Homo sapiens: one gene and its partners. The protein of the gene in region 1 purifies or fractionates together with the protein of each later gene. This does not show direct contact. Each region holds a gene or a part of one and is shown in the gene's direction. Other genes may lie near its edges.

Evidence for each region. Proteins that work in one complex are often made in the same cells at the same time.
Region 2: the proteins of TMA16 (region 1) and TNPO1 purify together in Homo sapiens (affinity purification with mass spectrometry; 3 studies listed by BioGRID and IntAct, with this or other methods). This does not show direct contact.
Region 3: the proteins of TMA16 (region 1) and PHF3 purify together in Homo sapiens (affinity purification with mass spectrometry; 2 studies listed by BioGRID and IntAct, with this or other methods). This does not show direct contact.

Annotation. Positions count from the first base shown.
Region 1 is NC_000004.12:163,504,679-163,511,707, forward strand, and holds part of TMA16 (translation machinery-associated protein 16), read left to right. Parts: intron 1-2,354; coding exon 2,355-2,467; intron 2,468-7,029. UniProt on the Homo sapiens protein: Involved in the biogenesis of the 60S ribosomal subunit in the nucleus.
Region 2 is NC_000005.10:72,889,657-72,896,685, forward strand, and holds part of TNPO1 (transportin-1), read left to right. Parts: intron 1-129; coding exon 130-301; intron 302-2,153; coding exon 2,154-2,240; intron 2,241-3,482; coding exon 3,483-3,590; intron 3,591-3,720; coding exon 3,721-3,879; intron 3,880-3,959; coding exon 3,960-4,047; intron 4,048-6,801; coding exon 6,802-6,900; intron 6,901-7,029. UniProt on the Homo sapiens protein: Functions in nuclear protein import as nuclear transport receptor. Serves as receptor for nuclear localization signals (NLS) in cargo substrates.
Region 3 is NC_000006.12:63,708,798-63,715,826, forward strand, and holds part of PHF3 (PHD finger protein 3), read left to right. Parts: intron 1-353; coding exon 354-443; intron 444-2,369; coding exon 2,370-2,565; intron 2,566-2,788; coding exon 2,789-4,911; 3' UTR 4,912-7,029.

The DNA of each region.
Region 1 (7,029 bases):
GTAGAGATGGAGTTTTGCTATGTTGGCCAGGCTGGACTTGAACTCCAGGCCACAAGTGATTCCACCTGCCTCAGCCTCCCAGAGTGCTGGGATTACAGGCATGAGCCACCATGCTTGGCTGAGGATCTGCCTCTAAGCTTGCTGTTGGTAGGATTGTTAAGCTGGTTCTTGGTAGGATTCAGCTCCTCGTGGACTGTTGAACTGCAGGCCTCACTTCTTCACTAGCTGTTGTCTGGAGGCCTCCCTCAGTTATTTGTCATGTGGCCCCTCCATATGGCAGCTCACTACAGGACAGCTGGTTTCCATGAGAGGGGGAAAGATGGAAGCCAGACTTCTTTGATAACCTAATCTCAGAATTGGCATTTCATTGCTTTTGCTAAATGCTCTTCATTAAAAGTGAGTCGGTAGGTCCAGCCCACATTCAAAAGGAGGGGATTCCATAAGGGCATGAGGATCAGGAGGTGGGGTTTATTGGGTCCATCTTAGAGGCAGCCTGCCAAATGTCCTGAAAGTTTTTACTTGATTCATGTTTGCTAGGTACTTTAATCTCAAAAATTCCTCATTACACCTGCCTTTCTCCTCTGCACTTGCCATGTGAGCAGAGAGATACATAAAAGAGTACATATACTCTTATATGATGGTTCTACATATTTTCCTATACCTGTAACCAACTTCCAGTGATACCTTAAGATTCAGATGTGGATATATCTTCTCAGGTTTATCAGAAAGCGAGCAGAGCGCTCAATGAGTGTTGAAAGAATGAATATATTTGTGAATGAGGAATTTGTGGTTATTTTAAATAGTTCTGCCTAGTTTTACAAAGGAAGTAATTTTGAACTGCATCTTATCAAAGGGCAAGTAAAGTATTTTGCAGGCAGAGGTAATAACAAGTGCAGTCTCAAGAAGTTATGAAATAGCTTGGTATGTTCTGGAATGGTGAGAAGTTCAGTAAGAATGGCGTGAAGAATCTTTTATAGAGGAGCATGGGAAATAATGGTGGAGAAGCAGGTTGGGGCTAGATTGTTTCTGTGCTAAAGACTTGGGACCTAACTGTGAGCTAGTAGAGCACTTTAAGCAGGGGAGAGGGACTTTACTATATTAGTGTTTTATGAAGACAAGCTCTGTAGCTTTGCCGAAGAAAGGACTAGTGGGGAGAATCTAAAGACTATCCTGATTATGAAAGATTCTGAGGATTGAATTAAGCAATTGACAATAATTTTGAAGAAGAGTGTAAAGCCACTTGGCCTTTTTCTGGAATAGGTATGTTGGAGACTGCCAGCTGTCCCCTAATGTATTCTTTCTGTTTTTCTATATGAATGGATCTTTTTCTCACAGAATAAGGATTATATTTACTACTCTCCCTTATGTAACACTGTGAATAAATTTTGGTCAGTGGGATGTGAGCAAAAGGATCTGCAACTTCCCAGGTCATGCTCTTAAAAAAAGGGGATGTACCTTCAGATTTTTCTTTTCCTACTTCATACTGGCTTGAGTGTAGACCTGGTATTAGGCTGTCTTGAACTAGATAGGAGGTATAGCCTGAGGCTAGTAGACAAAAAAATGGAAGGATCCTGGATCCCTAAGGGCTTTGTGGAACAGAACCTTCAGCTCCTACTTTTAACAATAAAGAACCAAACTTAAGCTGGGTTATGCCATTATTTGGGGTTTTTATTACAGAGAGCCAAATATGATTCCTAGATCATTATAGGTGAGGTAAGATACAGGATTATGTAGGAATAAAAGAAACCTGAGATGTCTAGTTTGGAGGACCTAATGAATTGTGGGCTGATTAACTGGCATAAGGCTTCAGTGGGAAAATGATACATTTTTCCTTTTGGATATACTAATTTTGAGATGGCTTCTATTATTTTCTCTATTCCTAATTTGTACAGGCAATGAGCCCAGCTTTGATTTTGCATGATTCATTGCCCGCTTTGTTCCATGTGAAACATCTACAATCAAGCCCCTACTAATAATCCAAGTCCCTTCTGACCCCTTAATTTTCTTAACTGTAACAAATTTCTGGCTGTGAGTCTCCTCACTATCTGTAGTCCCTGTATCTTCTTTGAAGATAGAACATGTTGTTGAAGAGCTGAGTTTATTGACTCCTTCTGTGCCTTTCTTCTGTCATTGGAGAGCACCTCTGAATATATCGTTTCTGTCATTACCATGGCAACAGATTATTAGAATTATTTAATGATCCTGGCTTATCTCCTGATTTTTCTTGTAATAGTTTTAGCTTACTGTATTTCTGTCATATTACTGTTTTTAAAATTTATTTGTAAAGAATATTTTTGGGACTGAAGGCACTTACATATCTGACTATATGTGTCATGTGTTTTCATACATTTTAGCCCAAAGCACCAAAGGGAAAAAGTGCAGGACGGGAAAAAAAAGTCATCCATCCATATAGTAGAAAAGCAGCTCAAATTACGAGAGAGGCCCACAAACAAGAAAAAAAGGAAAAGTAAGTATCTTTTCATCATTTGTATTACTCGTTGGTAAAAAGCCCCTTTATACTTTTATCTTTCAAACATATATCCTTTCACAGTATTGTCTCCCTTTCATAAATATTTATTAAGTGTGTTCTGTATGCAGAGGGTGAAACTGAACAAGGACTCTACTCTTTTAGAGCTTACCTAAAACAGATAAGTAATTTATGTAGCAGTAGGTGATGAGTGCCATGAAAAATTTAAAAAGTTATGGGATGGACAGTGAGGGAGAAGTTGTTTTACGTGGGATAGTCATGGAAGCCTTCTCTGAAGAAGTTACATTTGAACAGAGAGTTGAAAAATGTGAGGTCTGTATATAAGGCATGTAGGTTAAAGTGCCCATGAGACATGTAAGAGGAGATATGGAATGGATAGTTAGATATGTTGAGTCTAGTGTTCAGAGAATAGGTTAGGGGTATTGACACAAATTTGGGAGCGATCAGCATCCATGTGGGATTTCAAGCCGTGAGACTGGATAGGATCAGTTCACCTAAGGAGTAACTGTTGACAGGAAAGAGAAGAGAGCCAATTACTGAGTTCAGTGGCCCTCTACCATTTAGAGGTTAGGAAAAGAAGGAGCATTCCACAAGTGAGACTGAGAAGGAGGAGAAAGAAGGCTGTTTCAAAGATTCCTTAAAATGAAGTGAAGTTCAAATAAACATCATCGTTTTGACTATTTTAGAATGCCCTTGCCATTTTCATGAATGTTAGATACATTTGCATACCAGATAATGGAAGCCAGTATATTTTTAAATGTTGATTCTTTGCTTAAGATAAGCTTTATATAGTAAAGGTTACCTGTTTCACAGTGATTTGGCTAGAAGGAAATAAGTGTTGTGATAGCAGAGTCAAATTTTCTTTATTTTCTGCAGGGTAGTTTTTTATTTTTTTCAACATAAAGATTTACTGTGATGATAGCAGTTTTGCTTTAGCACAGTAGTTTTCAAACTTCAGCTATTTATGCATCACTTTTATGATTTTTGCTGTATCTTTTTAATATGATTTATTAGTACTGTGATTTTGCAGTTTCTGCTCTCATATATATCAGTATTTTGCAAACTTAAGTACATGAAATACATCTGTAGAACTTATTAAAACTGTTTGTTCCAACCCCTAGAATTTTCTATTCTGAAGGTTTGGGTTTCTGGCTTAAGGGTTTCCACTTCCAACAAGTCTCCAGGTAATGCTGGTGCTGTTGCTGCTGGTTTAGGGACCACACTATGAGAATCACTGACCTATACTATTATTTATTTTCCCTTAAGTACCATTTTTTAAAAAGGAGATATTTTTTCTCTCTTAAAATCAAATAGATACTATTACCTGCTGTAAATGGTCTGAGGCTGAGACATAACTTTTGTATATGTTTGGTGAAAAGATCTGGTGAAGGTTGGAAGACTGGTAAAACAAACCCACACTTTTGTCCTTAATGTAAAGTGAAAGGATCAAAAGAAAATGGAGGAAGGGGAAGCAACGTGCTTACCATTTTATTAAAGATTGTTTAATTCTGTGTCTATGAACTGCTTACCTTACATATAGTACCAGTGGTATGATATGCAATATTTTAGCAAGTAACTGCTTTAGAATATGATTAAGTACTTGGTTCACTGTCATTGTGACCGTGAGCCTACAATGTTTGTATGTTGTCAGGTATATTCAGCATGTTGTGTATTGATTTACAGAATTAGCGTTATAGAAAAATTATGGAAGAATAAAACAGAACAACATGCTAATCTGATATGTATATATTGTCCTAAGAAAATTCTGTTTATTGGCCAAGACTTTTATTTTAGTAATGCAGAGTAGAAAGCACTTAATTTTTCTGCTTAGACAATGTTCTAAATAGATTGGATTTTTTCCCTTTTTAAAATTTATTTTCAAAAAGTCACTCTCTTAGTAGTCATGGCTCTAGAACCAAATATACAATTTTAATAGTACTTAACATTATTTTATGTTATGAAATCATAGGCTTAGGCCACTATAGATGTCAGTTTTTTGAGTAGCAGCATCAGTAACCACGAGTCATACTTAACTTTAAATGGGAATGTGGTCACAAAAGGCACGTTGAAACGCTGCTGATTCCCTGCCCCATTTCAAAAGATGATTGGTGACAAGATACCCAGATGGTTGGGACAACTTTAAGCAAGGTGATTGAAGAAGGTACCAACAGGACAACTTGAACTTGGGTACCTGTGGCTTCTTAGAAATGAATAGCAGTTACCAGATGTTGTTTTAGTAACTGTTGCTGCATAAGAAATTCTGCTACAATTTAGCAGCTTAAAACAAACACAGTTTCTGGATCAGGTAGGAATCCCGTTGCCACTTAACTGGGTGTTTCTGACCCAGCATCTTTCACAAGCCTGCAGCTAAGCTGTTGTCTGGGACTGCATTCATCTCAGAGCTTGCTAGGGAGAATTTCTGCTTCCAAGCTTCCTCACATGGCTGTTGGCAGACCTCAGAAAAGATACTGTAGGAGTGGATAACAATGCTAGAGTAAAAGTTCAAGCATATTCTTTATCTTCAACATTTGAAAAGCTCTGATTTAGGACTGTATGACAGGAACTAGGATGGTTTGAAGACTAGCACATTCCCGACAATGAACAATTTACAAGCAGCAAGTGGCTCTTTGATATGATGTGATTTTTGTTTTATGATTTCACAGTATAGCAACATTTTGGCAAATAATTCTAGATAGCAAATGAAAATGACTCCTAATGGAAGATTAACAAAGGAAACTAAGCATGATGGGTAAGAATCTCAGAAACAACTACCTTTGAGAATTAATCTTATTGATTCTCTTTAAAACTCATGTTTACATATTGTTTTAAGAATTTTTTCATATTTACATGCAAGTACTGTTTTAAATAATTCTCACATCTCTCTACTTTTCTTCATTCCAGCTGATACCACTGTAAGTTCAGGTTCCCACTGAGTCCATTCAGAATTATTGCAACTTGACTTCTAACTAGATTCTTCCCTCCAGCCTTATTTAAAAGGAAGAAATTCCCCTCAGAGCCATTCTCCAACTTTTTATGAAGTGTTCTTTGTTTTTTAAGATCAACTTTGGGGTATAATTAATATATAATAAAGCGAACACATTTTAAGTGTAGTTTTTGGGTTTTGACAATTGTATACATTGGTGTAGCCACCCTGATCAGTATGTAGTATACAATTTCATCTTCCTAGAAAATTCCCTTGTGTATCTTCCCAGTCAGTCCTCACCCTCTACCCCTAGCCTCGGGCAGCCACTAATTTGCTCTTTATTTTGATAGGTGAGATTTATCTTTCTAATGTTTAATATAAATGGGATCATGCTGTATGTGGTTTTTTGTGCCAGCGTCTTTCACGTAGCATAATGTTTGAGAGACTTATCCATGTCATTTTATGTATTAGTTGTTCTTTCCTTTTATTGGGAGTATTATTCCATCCTCAGGCAATTTATTTATATCCATTCACTGGATATGCACCTTGCTTATCCATTCACTGTCTATGTTCGTTTGGTTATATTTTCATTTTTGGCTGTTATCAGAGGTCGGCAAGCTAAGGCATTAGCCACCTGTTATTACGAAAAGTTTTGTTGGAAAACATCAATGCTGGTTCCTTTTGTGTTTTCTATAGCTGCATTCATGCTGCAGTGGCAGAGCTGAGTAATTGTTACAGGTACACAGCCCCCAAAGCCTAAAATGTGACTACTTGACCATTGAAGAAAATATTGTCAACCTCTGCTGTTAGGAATAAAGTTCATTCCTGTAAAACATTCATGTACAGGTGTTTGTGTGGACATACGTTTTCATTTTTCTTTTACTTCCTAGAACTATAATTGTTGGGTAGATGTTTGAGTTTATAAGAAATTCAGTTTATAAGACGTTAGGTTAACACACTTAAGATGTTTGCTTAAGTATATGAGAATTTGGGTATATAAGAATTGCTGGATCATTTGGTGTATATTTAAGTATATATGAAATTACCTTTCTCAAAGTGATAGTACCATTTTACATTTTCACCACCAGAGTATGAGAGTTCTATTTGCTGTATATCCTCTTTGACATGTTATGTTGTCAGGGTTTTTTTTTTCTCTTTAATTTTAGCCAATCTAGTAGGTGTATAGTGGTATTTCAGTGTGGTTTTAATTTTCATTTCTTGATGACTAATGATGTTGAGCATCTTTTTAGGTTCTTTTTGGTCATTTGTGTTTTCTTGATGGAGAATCTGTCCGAATCTTTTGCCTTTTTGGTACTGGGTTAATCTGTTGTTAAGTAGTAAGGACTGTTTATATATTCTAGATACAAGTCCTTTGTTATTTGTGTTATGAATATTTTCTCCTAATCTGTAACTTAAAAATTTTATATAAAGAAGGTTTTGGCCTAGTATGGTGGCTCATCCTTGTAATCCCAGTGCTTTGGGAGGCCAAGGTGAGAGGACCGCTTGAGGCCAGGAGTTTGAGACGAGCCTGGGTGACACAGTGAGACTCTGTCTCTACAAAAATAAAAGTAAAAAAAAAAAAAAAAGTAGCCAGGCATGGTGGTATATAACAGTAGTC
Region 2 (7,029 bases), on another chromosome or scaffold:
CATTAACAGATGGCTTAGACCATTTTAGGAAATTCCTGATTGGGTAAAACAGAACATAAACATTTTAGCAATTAAGAGTTAGATATATCTTACAGTCAATAAGTATTCTTTTTTTTTTTTTTTAAACAGTGCCTTTGCTACCCTAGAAGAGGAGGCTTGTACAGAACTTGTTCCTTACCTTGCTTATATACTTGATACCCTGGTCTTTGCATTTAGTAAATACCAGCATAAGAACCTGCTCATTCTTTACGATGCCATAGGAACATTAGCAGATTCAGTAGGACATCATTTAAACAAACCAGTAAGTATCTGTTAAGAACTATTAGGGAAAATAATGTGTAGCATAGTTACAATTAATAGATTAGCATATATTTGGAAATTAAGATGTTTTGGGAGATGTGAATAGTTAGCGTTAGCTACTTTAAGAGTATAGATCTTACAAAGGCAGCAAGTATATCCCCTTTCATGTGGTATTCTTAAAGTAAATACATACTTGGTGTGGAAACTACAGCAGCATTTCACATGAATGCTCTGATACTTTTTAGAATGACTAAAGCAAAGGGATAAAAAAGTTTTTATAATCTGGATATCTGCTTTTACTTAATTCCTAATGTTTTTGAATCTACCACTTCATAAACACTGTAGCTTTAGAGTACCATATCTAGACATCTTTGTTTTTTCAGCAGGTACGGGGAGTATACTGTATAAAACAAATAGAAATTGGGGTAGTAGGTTTAAAAATGCTAAATAGTAATGCAAAAGTGCCTTGTTTCCAGTAGTGTTAGTAGAAGAGGAGGATGGATTTGTCTAATGAGGATTTAAGTGATAGTAGAATTTTAATATAGCTCCACATACCCTGCTGAATAGACTTCTATATGATTGCTATATCCAAAGTCTTAAGAAATTGTTTTATTTTTAAGTTACACTTAAGATTTGGTACAGGGCAGTTTATAGGTTTGCTTTGCTGTTGGTTGTTTGGTTTGGCTTTTGTGGGGGTTTGTTTTCTGAATGTCTTTAGAGTCTGTGCCCCTGTTTACATGATCACTATGTTTAGTCGTTTTATGGATCATTCTTTAGTTTGACACTTAAATGATTTTAAGTTTGTTTTTCTACAAAAGCATCTGTGTAAGTTTACCTGTTGATTTAAAAATGTACTATATAGTAACAGCCATATTACACGTTACAGTTCCATGACTAAAAGGAATTTTTTTGTGTGTGACAAGGTCTCACTCTGTCACCTAGGCTAGAGTGCAGTGGTGTGATCACAGCTCATTGCAACCTCCACCTCCCGGGCTCAAGCGATCCTCCCATTTCAGCCTCCCCTGTAGCTGAGACCACAGGCGTGTACCACCATTCCTGGCCAACTTTTTGTAGAGATAGTTTTGCCATGTTGCCCAGGCTGGCCCAAACTCCTGGGTTCAAGTGATCTGCCTGCCTCAGCCTCTCAAAGTGCTGGAATTACAGGTGTGAGCCACCATGCCCAGCCCCAGAACTAAAAATATTCTGTAACTTAAAGAGAAAAACTTAGGTCTGGGCACAGTGGCTCACACCTGTAATCCCAGCACTTTGGGAGGCTGAGGTGGGCAGATCAAAAGGTCAGGAGATCGACACCATCCTGGCTAACACGGTGAAACCCTGTCTCTTTAAAACTACAAAAAATTAGCCGGGTGTGGTGGGGGGTGCCTGTAGTCCCAGCTACTCGGGAGGCTGAGGCAGGAGAATGGCGTGGACCTGGGAGGCGGAGCTTGCAGTGAGCTGAGATCACGCCGCTGCACTCTAGCCTGGACGACAGAGCAAGACTCCGTCTCAAAAAAAAGAGAAAAACTTAGATCTTCCTTGATTGTGACTTTTTTAAGTAATAGATTTTGATTAGCTGTGTGTTTATTGATAGACTCTTTTTTTCAACAAGGATAAAAGATCAGTAGATCACTAGTTCTAGATCTAAAACTAGAACACGGTCATGTAAGTATAAAGGTAGGCAACAGAAAGGAAAACTTTAAAAGGGACTGTGCAGAGTGAAGAATGACTCTTAAAATGCCTTTTGTAATGATTTTACACAATTGCTCAAAATGGATTTTAATTTTCAAAGACTCAAAATGGTCTTGTTGACATGTGATAGTGGAATTTTATATGTTTTTCATCATTGTAAATAGGAATATATTCAGATGCTAATGCCTCCACTGATCCAGAAATGGAACATGTTAAAGGATGAAGATAAAGATCTCTTCCCTTTACTTGAGGTATGCAGGGCTAGTAATATTTAATCTGTTGCCAAGAACACATGTTCAAATCCAAAATGGGTATATATGATAAGAAAAGTGTTAATAAATTTATATTCTGAAGTAGACGGAGGAAATTATATGATACATACTGTTCTCTAACCTGCTTTACTTAATTGATAATAAATTAGAGTTTTAAGTTCTCTTATGTTATCTACTCTCTATATAGAGTAGATAGCATACTACTCTATATAGTATAGAGTAGATAACATACTGGGAGGATATATATACCGGGATATATATATATATCTTTTCACTCATACATATATGTTGAGTAGTGGGATTTGGTGCCAGTAAGGAGGTACTTATTTTCAAATTTGAAAATGTTTCCATGTGTACTTAACTACTTTTTTTTTTAACACCCCTTTCATTGCAAACTTTTATATGATGTTCTCGTAACTGAACACACTGTGAAATGTAGTCACTTAAACTTAGTTGAATTGACATTGATAGAACCAGTTCAGGCCTTTTCATTCTTGCTCCCTGTTATTTCAAGGTTCACCATCTTCTACCGTGGATTGTTCTTAGCCAAAGAAGTTAAATTTTCTATGACCAAGAGCAATTCTGGGCCCAGCAAAACAAGAAGAATCATTATGGTTCATTTTTTGTATGCAGTCGTCCCTCAGTATCTGCAGGGGATTGTTTCCAGGACTCCCCTTGGATACAGAAATCCAGCGATGCTCAAGTCCCTTATATAAAATGATGTGGTATTTGCATATGGCCTATGCACCTCCTCCCAATATACTTTAAATCATTTTAATTGTTTTTCTAAATACTTTTGATTCAAGATTGGTTGAATCCATAGATACAGAGGGCCAACTGTATATATATTACTTTCCGGCAGGATCTCAGAATGTGCCCAGTAAAGTCCATTCACAACATTGACCAGGATGGGAGCATGAAATGAATCTCTTCAATTTGAGGGAAAAATATGAACACATAATACTCAATCTGTCCTTTAAAGATAATGTTTCTTGTAGAAACGCTTCCTCTGAGTAAACCTGACCTGATTGGCTGGCAAACTAACAACAATGAATGGCTTCCAAAAGAGAGGGTTGGGGTGGGGGGAGGGGAACCTGCTACTGTAGAAACTAGTAGAGCAAGCTCATAAATGATCAGGATCCTGTTGAGCGCAGTTTCAAGCATTCATCATAATCTTCAGTATACCCAGAAAGTTTAGCATGTGTACTTTATTCTTCCTAGTGCCTATCTTCAGTTGCCACAGCACTGCAGTCTGGATTCCTTCCGTACTGTGAACCTGTGTATCAGCGTTGTGTAAACCTAGTACAGAAGACTCTTGCACAAGCCATGGTAATTTTTTTAAAATGTCTTCCTCTTCTTGACATGGTGGACATTTTTCTAAAGATAGGTATAATGTATACAGACTTTTTAAGTAGTTAATTAAAACCAAACTTACAAAAAACATTGTGTCTAATTTCAGCTAAACAATGCTCAACCAGATCAATATGAAGCTCCAGATAAAGATTTTATGATAGTGGCTCTTGATTTACTGAGTGGCCTGGCTGAAGGACTTGGAGGCAACATTGAACAGCTGGTAGCCCGAAGTAACATCCTGACACTAATGTATCAGTGCATGCAGGTGAGACTTGAAAGGTGAAAATGAATTGAAGCCTGTTTCTCTGTGTCACATTGGGGTTAATTTCTTCTTATTTCTTGTAGGATAAAATGCCAGAAGTTCGACAGAGTTCTTTTGCCCTGTTAGGTGACCTCACAAAAGCTTGCTTTCAGCATGTTAAGCCTTGTATAGGTATGAATATTTTCTACTGCTATGAATATGGTTTTTTAAAGTTAACATTTACATCAGCTTTGTTTTTTTATTATTAAACTGAAATTGCATGGAATCCCAACATTTATAAATGTACACTTTATTGGTTAAAGTAAACTTGCTGTGATTGAAACAGGCAAGATGGCAGGAACCCCTAATATTTCCTTGAGCTTGCCATCATCTCAGCTTTTTAGGTACTCCTGTGACTGGAGGAAAGCTTAGTAATATACTTTAGAGTAAAGGACATGCCCACCAGGGAAGCCTTGGTACCATGGACTAGTTAATAGATTCTTTTTTGAGTAGCCACCTTTTTGGTAGAGGTACACAGAAATAGTAATAATCAGGTTTTCTTCTCTAGCAAACCAGCATACTTTTTCAGATATTGCAGAAAACTTCCAACAAATGTCACTTTAACTGAGACTGGGCCTGGGGGCTCACACCTGTAATGCCAGCACTTTGGGAAGCCAAGGCAGGCAGATCACTTGAGGTCAGGAGTGCGAGATTCGAGACTAGCATAGCATTTGTCTTGGCCTTCTGTGACAATGATAAGAAATTCCTTGAATGTTGTACCCGGAATTGTTCTTAAACCTATGGGTTATAAATGAGTTATGGGATTTTTTTCCCCCTTTTCTGCATCTCAGCATGTTGGGTAACAATTATTTTAATACAGCCGGGCACGGCGGCTCAGACCTGTAATGCCAGCACTTTGGAAGGCCAAGGCGGGCAGGTCACGAAGTCAGGAGATCAAGACCATCCTGGCTAACACGGTGAAACCCCGCTTCTACTAAAAATACAAAAACTTAGCCAGGCGTGGTGGCTTGTGCCTGTAGTTCTAGCTACTTGGGAAACTGAGGCAGGAAAATCGCTTGAACCCGGGAGGCAGAGTCTGCAGTGAGCTGATACTGTACCACTACACTCCAGCCTGGGCAACAGAGCAAGACTCCGTCTCAAAAAAAATTATTTTAATACTTCATTTAAACCTTAATTTAAAATATTAATTGAATGTTTTGTCATCTGATATAATTGTGCTTTTGGATAACCATTTCTCAAAAAACTAACATAATTAACATTAATTATGATATATTAAGAACCATCAAGTTTAAACCTAACAGTGTAATGAATTCTTATGGGAAGCTTATCATTCTCATATTTACCACCTAATTTAGTTTTTTAGTTGAAACTTATATGAAAGGATTTAATTTTTTTATTATAAAGTGTTTAAGACGTACAAAAGTAGAAAAAATGTAACAAACCTCCTATCACCCAGCTTCAACTGTCCAGTCCTGTTTCCTATATACTGTTGTCAGTGGTGAGACACATAGATCTCAGATATTTTGGAGCAAATCTCAAACACAGCATTTGAAGTCTTAATATTTTAGTACATACTATACTATCTCTTCTTACAATTGTTTTTTGTTAAAGAAACCATGTTTTTTATTCTAAAGAGTTTCCTTTACTGTGGATTTTACTGATTGCATCTTTGTTGTCTTTAACATGTTCCTCTGTCCGTTGTATTTACTGTAAATTGTTTGGATACAGAGACTGAGGTTTAATGAGATTTACGTTGTTTTGTTTTTAAGACTTTATAGATGGTATTGTGTACTTAGTGTACATAGTGTCTAGTTGTCCCTCCTTTTTTTTTTTTTAATGTTACCAATCTTGATGATTGTCTCAATTAGTGGTTCTCAACTAGGGGCAATTTTGCCATTCGGGGAACATTTGCCAGTGTCTGGAGACATTTTGTTTGATGCTGGAGAGGTGCCATTGATGTCTAGTGGGTAGAAGCAAAGGATGTTGCTAAACATCTTATAATACAGGAGACAGCTCCCCTTCCCCCCAACAAAAAAATGATCTGGCCCAAACTGTCAATATTGCTGAGATCAAGAAACCCTGGCTTACATCTCCTGATTTATTAGGAGTTTAAAAAATTATGATATTCTAATTCTTCATTTAATAATGAAGATACTTATATAGGGAGACATTTCCCATATCAATAAATTACTATCCTGAGGTAAAATCATATAGCAGAGGCAAGATAAATACTTGATTCTTTTTTTTATTTACCAATTTTCAAAATAATGAATTGATTCCTATCATCCTCCAAAGGTATCTTTGATGTTTCAGAGTTTTGTTTTTGTTTGATTGTTTTTAGTGCTAGTGTGACTTCATGATGTTCAAGCTGTTGTACTGCTTGCAGTGAGAACTTAAGTTGGCTCCCGAGTCCTTTCATTATGACAAGATAGTCCACTTATTTTGCACATTTCCTGCCTTTGCCTGTAATGTGACGTTTTCTGAGAGTCCATTTTTTTTTAGTGGAAAATGTTATTCAGAGACCACAATCAGAGCACAAGAGTGAAAATTGCTTTAAAAGCCAAAATCATTGATTTTTTTTTTTTAGTCTAATTACAAGAGATTACTCTGACCAACTCTTTTTAGTGGTATGTAAAATATACCCAAACTTGTATTTCCTGTTCCACATTATTTGAAAGTTCATTGGCCAGATACTGTTTTCTTCAGTTTCTTAAGATAAACATTACCAACTCCTTTAAAAAATATTTTTAAATACAGTTGCCTAGTTTATTTCCACCAATTTTAAAATTGATGTTGCAGTAATTTTTTTAATGGTGAAACTTGTTATTTCTTGCTTAGATTTCTGTTTCCACCTAGTAGATTTCCTTTAAAGTACAATATACTGCTATTGAAAAGTTTACTACATAGTTTAAATTTTTTTTCTAGCTGATTTCATGCCAATATTGGGAACCAACCTAAATCCAGAATTCATTTCAGTCTGCAACAATGCCACATGGGCAATTGGAGAAATCTCCATTCAAATGGGTAAGATGTTTTTCCCTATTTAAAAGCATAAGGCCTGGCGCGGTGGCTCACGCCTGTAATCCCAGCACTTCGGGAGGCTGAGGCGGGCAGATCACCTGAGGTCAGGAGTTTGAGACCAGCCTGGTTGAC
Region 3 (7,029 bases), on another chromosome or scaffold:
GGGAGGTTACAATCTCTGCTAATATTCTGAAATGTGTTGTGTTCTTTCTGAATTGTTAATGTGGTATGCTTGCCATTGCTTCCCTTTCCCATCTTTCATAGTGAGATTGGGCATGAACTCAGACTCTTTCTTAGTAGCTGTATTTTAGGCAACAGTCATTTGTAGTTGGCATTTCAAGTAAAACCTAATTGCTCTCTGTATTCTGTTTTCCGATGCATTTTTCATAATCTCTTTATTTACTTGTTTTTATTACTGTTTCAAATTAGTCTTAGAATCAAATTTGTATGAATTACTAATGTCATAATAAAGATAATCTATATATATTGATCTCTTTTTTTTTTTTTTAACCATAGGACCTACCAGATAGTATTCAAGTAGGTGGCAGGATATCACCTCAGACAGTTTGGGATTATGTGGAAAAAATAAAAGCATCAGGAACCAAGGTGAGGAAAACTTTTTTCACTATACCAGCATGGGAAAATGTTTAGAAAGTAAACAGTTTAGAATTCTTATGCAAGGGTGCAAAGTCTCCTGGGGAAAGGAGGCAATACACATTTTAAGTCTATGTAATATACCTCACAAAACTGAACAAAAGCCATTTGCTGAGGCTGTCAACAGTACAGCATTTTTTTTTTTTCCTCTCCTGGGATGCTCTCTTTGTGGCTTCTGTTAATGTTTTAGAAGAAATGTTTTAGAGTAAGTATTGAAATTCACCCTGGAATTTTGCCTTGCTTCTATTACAGACAAGTGTTTGAGTTAGGGCACAGCTAAGCTATTGCAAAAAAGAGAATCTAAAATATAGTGACTCAAAAAATACAGAAGTTGATTGGAGTGTTGTCCTCAGCAGTCAAACATACCAAATAGGAGTAAATGAGGAATACCTGTCTAGTTGTTTGAAAGGCAAATTGCAGTCATTAACTTCCATTGGAAAGAACCTAGTCACATAGCCATCCATACATAGCTGCTAGGGAGGCTGGGAAATGTAATCTTTATTGGATGGCCATGTGCCCAGCTAAAAGTTAAGGGCTTCTTATTAGTAATAGGAGGAAAGGAGAAAAGATACTGCGAAATGGCTCTATCACAATAATATTTCTCCTTTTCCTTTTTCTCTCTACATTTTCTTTTCTTTTTTTAACTTATAGAATATTACTACAGAGGAAAATTTAATCATTAGAAGAAATTGTTTTTCCCTCCACGGGATGTGATAGTACCTAGTATATTAACAGTCATTCGATAAATAAATCTTGAATGAATAAATGTTACTTTTTTGCCTCTTTTTCAGAAGTCTCTAGCTTTTCTTTGGAATGATCCAAAATGGATAATCTTAAGCTGAAAAGAATATTTTGTTCCAGTATAGATTTTTAGAATTTAAATTGATACAGTGTTAAAATACAAATAAACTTTAAAGCACTAATAAAAATGAGAAGTATTACTCTTGGGCATTTTGAGAATCACTCTTGAATCCACACATATATTACTGCCCAACACTTTATAGTATGTTCCAATTTAACAGATTTAAACACTCTGTAATAGTTGTTACTAACATATGTATGGTGATTTTTACTCTAAAAGAGGGCAGTTTAGATGACACACATTTTATAAGAGAGTCATATTTCAGCTCATTCACATGTTTTCCTTAGGAGCTTGTATCAGTTTTAGGCTTTGCAGCAAATCTGGCTCTCCCATTTCGGCCATATACCATCATGAAAAAAAACATTGTTGTTGAACACTACCAAATTAATAACAAATTAGGACTGTCTTTTCTATCTGAAACAAAACCTAGAGGCAAGCAAGAAAATTCCTAAGCCAAATTACTTTACAAAATTTACGGTCTATATGTATTTAAGGTCTCTTCATCCAGCCCTTTTTATTTCTAAATTCAGTGCCTAGTAACTGGATTATTAGTAGATTTGTCTGTTTGTGTATATAAATGTATGGTAGGGTGGAAGTGTTGGGTGCTTTTAGTTCCCAGTGGTTCAAGAACATAAGCAGCCCTTTGTGGAGGTTACAGCATTGGAAATCAGGATATAGTGTAGATATTAGAAGACTTGGGTTTCAGTATCATCTCTGCCACTGACAAGTTGTATCTGTCACCTTCAAAAAAGTCATTAATCACCTTTGGACTCCATTTCTTATGTTTCCGTAAGAAATGTAAGCTATCAGATAAATCCATCAATGGATCAGTAAAGATCTTTTCTTAAGAGTTACTTGCTTTTAATATTCTCTTCTGTATTTAAGTTGGTAAACCACGTTATTTGGTACCATCATTATAAAGTTCAATAGATTATTACTAATTGAGAAATAGTTTTAAAACCAAGCTACTCTTTAGCTTATTACCTTAAACAATTATTTGTTATTTTCTTGAACAGGAAATTTGTGTGGTTCGCTTCACACCAGTAACTGAAGAAGATCAAATTTCTTATACTTTGCTCTTTGCATACTTCAGTAGCAGAAAGCGCTATGGAGTAGCTGCTAACAACATGAAGCAGGTTAAAGATATGTACCTTATTCCTTTGGGTGCCACAGATAAAATTCCACACCCTCTTGTGCCTTTTGATGGACCTGGTAGGTATACGTTTTAATAATAGGATAAGAATGAAATAACATGGGAGGTGGGACCAGAGTGAAAAGACTGATTCTGCCTTCTTTCTCAGGATCCAGCCCTCTAGAGATGGCTTGACAGGGCCAGGCACCATTTAATATCCTGTAATAAGTTAGAGGCAGAATTTTACCTTTTTTTGCAATGATTGAAAATGATGAATTAATTGATGTTTTTGGTTTTATACAGGGCTTGAACTGCATAGACCTAATCTATTGTTGGGCTTAATTATTCGTCAGAAACTGAAGCGACAGCACAGTGCCTGTGCTAGTACTAGTCATATAGCTGAGACTCCTGAAAGTGCACCACCAATAGCATTGCCACCTGATAAAAAAAGTAAAATAGAAGTTTCTACAGAAGAAGCACCAGAGGAAGAAAATGACTTTTTTAATTCTTTTACAACTGTATTACACAAGCAGAGAAATAAACCTCAGCAGAATCTTCAGGAAGACCTTCCAACAGCAGTTGAACCTTTAATGGAAGTCACCAAACAGGAGCCACCAAAACCTTTAAGATTTCTTCCTGGCGTGTTGATTGGCTGGGAGAATCAACCTACTACTCTGGAATTAGCAAATAAACCTCTTCCTGTGGATGATATACTTCAAAGCCTTTTGGGCACCACTGGTCAAGTATATGACCAGGCCCAGTCAGTGATGGAACAAAACACTGTTAAAGAAATTCCATTTTTAAATGAGCAGACCAACTCAAAAATAGAGAAAACAGATAATGTGGAAGTAACTGATGGTGAAAACAAGGAGATAAAAGTTAAAGTAGATAATATTTCAGAATCTACAGATAAGTCAGCAGAAATAGAAACATCAGTAGTAGGGTCCTCTTCCATTTCTGCAGGGTCTTTGACGAGTCTTAGTCTCAGAGGTAAGCCACCAGATGTTTCTACAGAAGCATTTTTAACAAATTTATCAATTCAGTCAAAACAAGAGGAAACTGTGGAGAGTAAAGAGAAAACATTAAAAAGACAGCTTCAGGAAGATCAAGAGAATAATTTGCAAGATAACCAGACTTCAAATAGTTCTCCATGCAGATCTAATGTAGGAAAAGGAAACATAGATGGTAATGTGAGCTGTAGTGAAAACCTTGTTGCTAATACAGCGAGGTCTCCACAGTTTATCAACCTGAAAAGGGATCCTAGGCAAGCAGCAGGACGAAGTCAGCCTGTAACTACTTCAGAAAGCAAAGATGGAGATAGTTGCCGGAATGGAGAAAAACACATGCTGCCTGGCCTGTCACACAACAAGGAGCACTTAACAGAACAAATCAATGTAGAGGAAAAGTTGTGTTCTGCAGAGAAAAACTCGTGTGTTCAGCAGAGTGACAATTTAAAAGTTGCACAAAACTCACCATCAGTAGAAAACATACAGACTTCTCAAGCAGAACAAGCAAAACCCTTACAGGAGGATATTTTAATGCAAAATATTGAAACTGTGCACCCATTTCGAAGAGGATCAGCAGTAGCGACATCTCATTTTGAAGTTGGAAACACATGTCCATCAGAATTTCCTTCTAAAAGCATCACCTTTACTTCCAGAAGCACCAGCCCCAGAACAAGTACAAACTTTTCACCCATGAGGCCACAGCAGCCCAACCTTCAGCATCTCAAGTCTAGCCCACCTGGATTTCCATTTCCAGGGCCTCCTAATTTTCCCCCACAAAGCATGTTTGGATTTCCACCACATTTGCCACCTCCATTACTTCCCCCTCCAGGCTTTGGCTTTGCTCAAAATCCCATGGTTCCCTGGCCACCTGTTGTTCATCTCCCAGGTCAGCCACAGCGTATGATGGGTCCTCTCTCACAAGCATCAAGGTATATAGGCCCGCAGAATTTTTACCAGGTTAAAGACATTCGGAGGCCAGAAAGGCGCCATAGTGACCCTTGGGGTAGGCAAGACCAACAGCAACTGGATAGGCCATTTAATAGGGGTAAAGGGGACCGCCAGAGATTTTATAGTGATTCACACCATTTGAAAAGAGAGCGACATGAAAAGGAATGGGAGCAAGAATCTGAAAGGCATAGACGCAGAGACAGAAGCCAAGACAAGGACAGAGACAGAAAAAGCAGGGAGGAAGGGCACAAAGATAAAGAGAGGGCACGGTTATCACATGGTGATCGAGGAACAGATGGAAAAGCAAGCAGAGATAGTAGGAATGTAGACAAGAAGCCAGATAAACCTAAAAGTGAAGACTATGAGAAGGACAAAGAACGAGAGAAAAGTAAACACAGAGAAGGAGAAAAGGACAGGGATAGGTACCACAAAGATAGGGACCACACTGACAGAACTAAAAGCAAAAGGTAAAATTTGCAGGCTGCTTCAGGATTACATTTAAATAACTGTTAAAATGTTGTATCTTGTAAACAAAAGAAAGATTGCCTGCTAGGATTGTGCCATCTTTAAAATTTTTACTATTGGTCATTTGCAGAACAGTAAATTCTGTGTGTTGGTACAGAGTGCTCTGTACCAGTGCTCATCATCCCTTCTTCATACCAACGGTCCCTAGTTATAGGAATTTAATATTTTTAAAAGTTTTACATTGCTGTATATTCAAAGATTTGTTTTATTAATATGCAATAAAGGCTTAGAAATTTTAGTTTTATTCCTTAATTGGTAAATATGGTTAACTATGGAATATATTTACTTCCTCTAGTGAATGTCCTTTATATAATGACTAATTTGGGAGTAATGTGTGCTCTGTAAGTTTGTTTTAAATTGCACTGTTTTTAAAGAAACTGTAGAGGAGCAACAAAAATCCAAGCAACTTCATAATCAGATTATGCTAATCATTTAGTTGAGCAGTTTTTGACCAAGAATCAGAAGCCCAAGGGGTACATTTATTGCTTTAATCTGCACTCATTGAAGTCATTTATTACCATATACTACAGCTTTGTGGTAGGCCATTATTTTCATTTTCATTTTTGGCTCTTCAGAAACTTGAATACTTAAGCTTGTACATGATCTTGTGTTTTGCTATCCTTTTTACTGTAAAATGTAAATATTTTAAGGGATATTTTGATTCTAAATATGATAAAATAATTTCTCACCTATTTTGTGTGTGTGACTTGAAATTCAGTAGTAAAAGAATTTCTTCTTTAAAGCTTTAATTACCTTCAGACATTGATTTTTTGTTACTCAGCCAAGAACATATAGAAATAGCTATCTATGTCAGGCATTAGATGAGGGGAAAAACAATTTTTTTAAAATCTTAAATTGTAGGCTGAGATGAATTGTGTAGTTCTAAAGAGGCTAGAATTTAGAACTACCTGTGAAACACTGTGCAGCTATAGCCCACTTTATAGGTAAGTTTCTGAAAACTTTTACACCATCGCAATTTGGTACTCTGACTCACTAATCATTAAAATTAAAGACCGCAGAACTTGAAGAGAAATATGTTTTGAATCCTTTTATAAAATGTGCGATTTAGCCTAATTCGTAAAGTAACTGTACAGTTTCATATGCCAGTTTTACTTGAAAAAAAAATATGAAAACTATTGTTAATTCAAATCTAAATTTATTTAAACCCTAAAACACATGGTTTTGATGGCTGTAATTTAAAGTAAGAGCTATCAAATGATGCTGACAAAAGAAAAACCTTCCAAAATACAAAAGAAAGAGAACTCTATTATTTACTTACCTGTATTAATGAAGAAAAATATAAATAATTCCACAAAATTGATTGTTTTCCTAAAGAGCTTAAAGATTAGAGTTAAAAATTGGTTTTGAAACAGAATTATCCTTGTTATTTTTGCTGGAGAGAAGGGAGGAAATTCAGAACCAAACATTCTATTTAATTTGCAATGACTTGCAGTACTTTTTTCCCTATCCTTATCCTGTGAAACTTACTATCATAAGGTTCTAAAACAGAGAACTTGTGTTTAAATAAAGCCCGTTTAACTTTGGTCCACTTTTCTTTTGGAAATTAACTTGTTAGAAAACAAAGTTAGTTCCCAAACAAAACAAAATCTAAGTTATAATTTGCACCATTACAAAGAAATTGCTGTCAGGGTTTTACACATTTTAAAAACATTTCAATTTCAAATGTGTATATCGTCAATAAATCTACCTTTACTGATATATCTGGTTGAGGGAATATCAGACTCCAGATTTCTTTTGCAAGATGAAAGTAAAAACGAGTGGGTTAATGAATGAAAACAAGCTTTTAGGTCAGTTTTTGATCACCTCTTCGCTAATAGTTTTTTCTACATATCTAAAATTCTTTAATCAGTTCTGATCGAATCTTGATACATGTTTTTAAAATAGGCAAGGCCCATATAGCTTTCTATTAGGGATGAGCATCTCCAGGGGTTAGAGGCAGATCTTGTAACCGCTGATTGACTGAAACATTTTATGGAGAATAGGGAAGGTATGGTCATATTAGCTATTTGAGGTTTTCCTTTTGAGGAAAAAAAGGGAAAATGA